Linked DNA regions of Homo sapiens. The protein of the gene in region 2 interacts with the protein of the main gene of each other region in a biochemical or structural test. Each region holds a gene or a part of one and is shown on either strand. Other genes may lie near its edges.

Region 1 (3,500 bases), on a different chromosome or scaffold from region 2:
AGCCGGGAGCCCTTCCATTCCTTTCCTTCCGTGGTGACCCCTCACAGAGGATGGGCCCTCTCCTCCACCTCCAGAACCCACCCACTGCTCCCCAGCCCCGTCCACCCCAGGCCTGCCTTTGTCCCTGTCTTGTTCCCTCCCTTCCTCCCTTTGATGCATCTGTCTGTCTGACTCTTGGCCTCTCCTGGACTCTGTACTTTTTAAAGTTTTAATTTTTTAAATTTTTTGTAGAGACAGAGTCTTATTATGTTTCCCAGGCTGGCGTCAAACTCCTGGGCTCAAGCCATCCTCTTGCCTCGGCCTCCCAAAGTGCTGGGATTACGGGCGGGAGTCACTGCACCCGGCCTCCACTATGTACTTCTGACATGACTCTAATTCATCTCCATTTATCTCTCTGAGTTCCCCCATCTGCCACAGTGGTTCAGTCTGGTTTGACTCTGTCTACCCTTCTCTGTCACCTCTTTCTGATTTTCTATTTCTATTTGCCTGGTTTTCTGCCTCTCTGTCTCTTTCTCTGCCTCTGTCTGTCTTTCTCCCAAAGCCATCCTCCCACCTCAGCCTCCCAAAGTGCTGGGATTACAAGTGTGAGCCACCGAGCCAAGCCAGTTCTTGTCTTCTACAGCATCCCCCCTAACCTGCTCTCTCACCCAGTCCCAAGACAATCCTCCCTACTCCTTTTCAAACCCATTCATGCTTCATGTGGGCTCTGCAGCACCTCCTCCAGGAAGGCTTCCCTGGTGCTCCTTAGGCCTTTATCACAGACATCCCCAGGCTCTGGCCAGCTGCTGGTTCTCTGGCTTCCTCCAGGCTTAGGGGGTGGGGGTGGGGGCAGACGTGAACCCCTTCCTGGGTCTGTACAGTCTGGAAAACTGGGAAGGGGGCAGCCAGGCTGGCCAGAACTCTGACCTGCCAGTGCTTGGTGACGGCATTCCACACCCCGATGCGCCCTGTGTGGCTTGTAGCAATGAGCTGGTTCCCGACGAAGAACAAGGCCTCCACAGGCACCCCCAGATGAAAGACCCCTGCAGTGGGCAAAAAGGGCTCAGCTGGAACCCTGCCTCATGGAGGAGGAGAGGTGGGAGGAAGAACTCCAAGGACCAGAGGGTTCAGTGGGACCACAGAATCCTTGAAGGATAGAAGATTCCATCAGGGGCTGGGCACAGTGGCTCACACCTGTAATCCCAACACTTTGAGAGGCTCAGGTGGGCGGATCATTTGAGGCCAGGAGTTTGAGACCAGCCTGGCCAACATGATGAAACTCCATCTCTACTAAAAAATATAAAAATTAGCTGAGTGTGGTAGCACACAACTGTAGCCCCAGCTACTTGGGAGGTTGAGGAAGGAGAATTGCGTGACCCCAGGAGGCAGAGGTTGCAGTGAGCCGAGATCATACCACTGTACTCCAATCTGGGCAACAGAGAATGACTCCATTTCAAAAAAAAAAAAAGTGAAGATTCCAGCAGGAATTAGAGAAGATAAAATGGGCCAGAAGATTTCTGATGGGGTATGGGATTCTAAAACGGTCTGGAATTCTAACAGCACTGAGATTTGCAATAAGGCAAAAAAACCTCCACTGGTGGCAGGGGATTCTTACGAGGGCTGAGATTTATTTGGGGACAGATTAATAAGTCCGAGATTTGTTGCTGTGGCTTTGAGACAGGGTCTTGCTCTGTTGTCCAGGCTGGAGTGCAGTGGTGCAATCATGGCTTACATAGCTCACGGCAGCCTCGAACTCCTGGCCTCAAGCAATCCTCCTGCCATGGCCTCCCAAAGTGCTGGAACTACAGATGTGAGTTACTGTGCCCAGCCATAAGTCAGAGATTTCTTTTTTTGTTTTTTTTTTTTTTTTGAGATGGTGTCTCACTCTGTCCACTCTGTCGCTCAGGCTGGAATGCAGTGGTGCGATCTCAGCTCACTGCAACATCTGCCTCCCAGGTTCCAGTGATTCTCCTGCCTTAACCTCCTGAGTAGCTGGGATTACAGGCACGTGCCACCACACCCAGCTAATTTTTTTGTATTTTTGAAATAAAGACTGGGTTTCACCCTGTTGGCCAAGGGGGTCTCGAACTCCTGACCTCAAGTGATCTGCCCGCCTCAGCCTCCCAAAGTGCTGGGATTACAAGCATGAGCCACCGCACCGGGCCAAGTCAGACATTTCTCATGGCCACACAGAATAGCGCATTCTAACAAAACCAAGAGATCTAACAGGGCAGGGAATTCTGATGGAGGGAGAATTGTATGTGGGTGGATTTTTCTAGGAAGCCAGGGAATTCTAACAGGATACAGAATTCTGAAGGGCTGGAGCATTCTAATGACACAAACAGATCTAATAGAGCAGAGAATTCTTATGGGTTTGAGGATTTTATGGGGTGGGTCATTTTAACAGGCAGTAGAATTTAAAGGACAGAGGGTTCTGGAAAAGGCTTGGGGTCATACCTATCTCGGAGCCACCGCCTTCCGCCTGCAGAGCCCATAGCAGGATCTCGCTGCCGGTGGCTGCTGCCACCATCTTGTCATGTTCACCCAAAGCCCCACCATGCACCCGGGCTGTGAGCGCCAGTCGTTCGATGGGCCAGTCCAGGCGGGGGCTGGAAAACACCAGCTGCCAGCCAGAGGCTTCCTTCAACCTGTAGGATCGAGGGGACATCACCAACCCTCACCGCATGCCCTTCCCATCAACAGGGCTGGGACCTCCTGCCACTCCCTCCCCAAGCACCTGTAGCAGACTAGAAACTGGGTATAGGCCACAGCGATCCAATTATGGTGTCCACACACCAGGCGCACCATCCCCGGCTCCTCAGGTTGTCCTTGAGGGGAAGAGTAGGGATCAGAAGAGGGTCACAGGGACCCCACAGCTGCCCCAACCTTCCACGAGATAGAAACGTACCTGAGGGTGAGGGAGGGGTTTTCTCATCCAGCATTCGGCCCAGCAGCCCTGCATTGCCAAGGTTGGGGGGCATCGTGTTGCTCCGTCGGACAGGGGCTGGCCGTCCTCCTAGCTGCTGAGGCCCCACTAGGCTGTGCCGGTTCCGCCGCTTCACTGGGAACACTACAGTGAGAATAAGAGGTAGAGTAACAGTCATTGTAATCGTGGCTGTCACACAGCAAGCACTTAAAATATGACGGTGATTGATTTCCCCATGTGTGGGACATAGTCTCCGGGTGAAGATTTTAAGTGGTGCAGTGACACAGCATGAAATGACACTGAACCACATAGCAAGTTACTTCCCTTTCAGTTCCCTTGAGCCCAGCACAGAGGAAGACTGAGTTTAGTGCTGCTGTGATATTAATGAATCTGCAGTATTACCTAATTTTCCGTTTTTTTTTTTTTTTTTTTTTTTGAGTTGGAGTTTCGCTCGTTGCACAGGCTGGAGTGCAATGGCACAATCTTGGCTCACTGCAACCTCTGCCTCCTGGGTTCAAGTGATTCTCCTGCCTCAGCCTCCCAAGTAGCTGAGATTACAAGCACCCACCACGACACATGGCTAATCTTTTATATT
Region 2 (2,835 bases):
CCCGAGTAGCTGGGATTACAGGCATGTGCCACCATGCCCGGCTAATTTTGTACTTTTAGTAGAGACAGGGTTTCTCCATGTTGGTCAGGCTGGTCTTGAACTCCTAACCTCAGGTGATCCACCCGCCTTGGCCTCTCAAAGTGCTGGCAACACCAAAGTGTTATTTTATTTTATTTTTTTAAAGGCAGTCTTGCGTAAATTACTTCACTTGACCCACAGTTCATGTGGTTGTAAATGGGAACCCCACCTCCTACCTATGAAGGATAGATACCATTGGGGTTAAATGAGATGGATGAAAAGTTCAGAGAATAGTGTCCGCCACACAGCAGCTATTAAAAACTGCTAGGTACTCCTTCCTGAAATCGATCTGGGATTCTATGAGAAAGGAGCTGAACAGTATTTAATACAAATCAAGGTTCTAAATGACCTGAAATAAATTCACATACAGTCAGACTGTTGACATGTTAGATCACAAAAAATCTAGTCACCTGACAACACCATTTCTTATGTGGACTTCTTTTAAACATTTATTAAAAAAGCAAAATGTATGTTCATCTCAAATCTAACAGTTAAAAATGGTAAAGCAATACAAACAATGTGTTACTAGCAGCATCCAGTCGTTAGAATCTCTCACCCTGCTTCTCGGTCTGATCTGTGCAAGCTCAGTCTCTTCTGAGCCTGCAGCTACCTCCATCCCTCATCGTAGTGCAGGCCAAACCAAATTTTATAAAATTAACAATTTAAGGTTAAATAAGCTTAAATAAGGGTGTTAAATACAAGACACTTCATCAAAGCTTCTGTACAAAGATAAACAAATCTGGCATTGTACAAGTGGTTCCGCTGGCTCACAGCACACAGGGAAGTTCTAGTGAGTAAGCAGATTCACTCTCATTTCTTTCCAGCAGAGCAACTATACAAAAGTGAACTAAGAGTTGAAGTGACTACTGACCACTCGGTGAGCCATTTACAAGGCATATGTATCTTTTTTTTGTTTTTAATCAGAACACTGTTAATATTCAGGCACCATTTGTTCCTGCAAATAAATAAGTCTCTAAGGTAACTGCATCTGAACTAGTGTTAAACACAACAGTGCTTTTTTTTTTTTTTAATCCCCCCACAAAGCTTTTCCAACTATGTACTATGCCTCCTTTCTTATTGCTATGGTAATGTGGCTGTGGAAATAAAACTACTGTACATCCAAAAAAATAGAGCACCTTTAACATTAAAGTATATGTCTGATTATTTGTTCTCATGTTTATTTTACAATACTAAAGCCCAAACTATGGTAAATTGCTTTACATCTCTACCAGGTCACCTGATATACAGGAAATAAAACTCAACTATCTTCCCTCTTGAGGTAAGCCCAAGCCAGAGCACTGTTTTAGCAGAGTCTAAAAGAAAAAGGTCTCAACTGTCGCCAGGGTTTACATTCATCTTCACACCAGGAGTTACATTCATTCATCTTCACATCGGCGCTGCTCTCTGCCGTGGTTACCGAGAAAGAGTCGAGGCTCCCTATCCTGCTGTGGTGAATGGTGCTACACAGAATGGAACAGCAAAAACATCTACGATTGGTTGAAAGCACACAGAAAAACCACATGTTTGTGACTTCAAAGGGACAAGGGGCATTTCCCAGTGGTCCCTTGATGAGGTGCGGATTGGCTAAGATTTTTTGTCGATGGTGGTGAAAAACCATTCTGTGAATTTCCGCAGCTGAGCTGTCGCGGTCTGGGACTCCTCCTGCAGTCTCATGTTGTCCTGTCTCAGGTGCTGCACTTCTGCTTGGAGAACGGCCTTGTCTTGTTTTTCCTGGTCAGAGCAGAAATAAACTGAGTCATGGAGACTGATCGATACATTCATTCCTCCTAAGCTGGGCTACGAGAATCTTTGATTCTTATTTTTACTTATGTACTTTTTGAGGGGAGAAGGGGTGACTTTCTTTAGTGAGGGGACTTTTCTGATCCTGATTCCTGCTGATGACAAAGGGATGGGAATGAACACTCCACACACCCTGTTCTTTCATCCCACTCTGCTCCCATGGGGTGCTAAGATAGCCTTTATATAGGAAGGGTGTTCATCATAGTTTATATTACCCTCTATCCAAAAAAGGGAGACTACAGGGAGGTTAAAGGTAATACCCTTTTGACAAATGCACAAAACTTTCTAAGTAGAAAATTGGAATTAGCAGAGCTGTTACATATGTTTATAATAAAATATGTACTTAGGTCTTTCATTCCATCAAGCTTTCCTGCTATACTATATTTCCATAATGACCCTTAAAATCTGCTATTAAAAACTGTGTAAAAATAATCAAGACTTTCAGAAGAATCACATCTGGAGTTTCCAACATGTAGCAATAAAAAAATGTATAGCAGCAGTTTCAGTTCCCCCCCTGCTGAAAGGGATGCCTTGCCCTAAATGAATAGAGGGGTCACTGTCAGATTGTAATAATCGGTATTTCTGTAACGGGATCTAACTCAACCACTACAGCCACCACATGCCACCCCCAGCACTGTGCAGGAGCATTGAGTGAGGTGAGTGGACGCCCCCACCCTTGGCATATCTGGTCCTGCCCTCAAGGCTTCCTCGTTTCCTGAGCCCTTCCAAGGCCCTCCTCAATACCACCTGCCTGGTCACTGGCCCAAAAGACACTGGTCCTCAGAGGAGGCCTGAATCAGAGCTGACCACTCACTTTGCTGTAAGGAGCAACTGCAGCCCACCCTGGATAGACTCACTTCACTCTAAGAAGCAGCTGCAGCCCACCCTGGATACTGACTCTCCCCGGACATTCCTCACCACGACTCTCAGTCCCAAGACAGTCTGAGTCCCACAGCT

Evidence for each region. Proteins that work in one complex are often made in the same cells at the same time.
Region 1: the proteins of SIPA1L2 (region 2) and SHKBP1 interact in a test that uses a peptide from one of them, tested with the Homo sapiens proteins (one large-scale study listed by IntAct).

Annotation. Positions count from the first base shown.
Region 1 is NC_000019.10:40,579,873-40,583,372, reverse strand, and holds part of SHKBP1 (SH3KBP1-binding protein 1), read right to left. Parts: intron 3,050-3,500; coding exon 2,888-3,049; intron 2,808-2,887; coding exon 2,717-2,807; intron 2,628-2,716; coding exon 2,437-2,627; intron 1,023-2,436; coding exon 907-1,022; intron 1-906.
Region 2 is NC_000001.11:232,397,465-232,400,299, forward strand, and holds the end of SIPA1L2 (signal-induced proliferation-associated 1-like protein 2), read right to left. Parts: intron 1,810-2,835; coding exon 1,663-1,809; 3' UTR 501-1,662; downstream 1-500.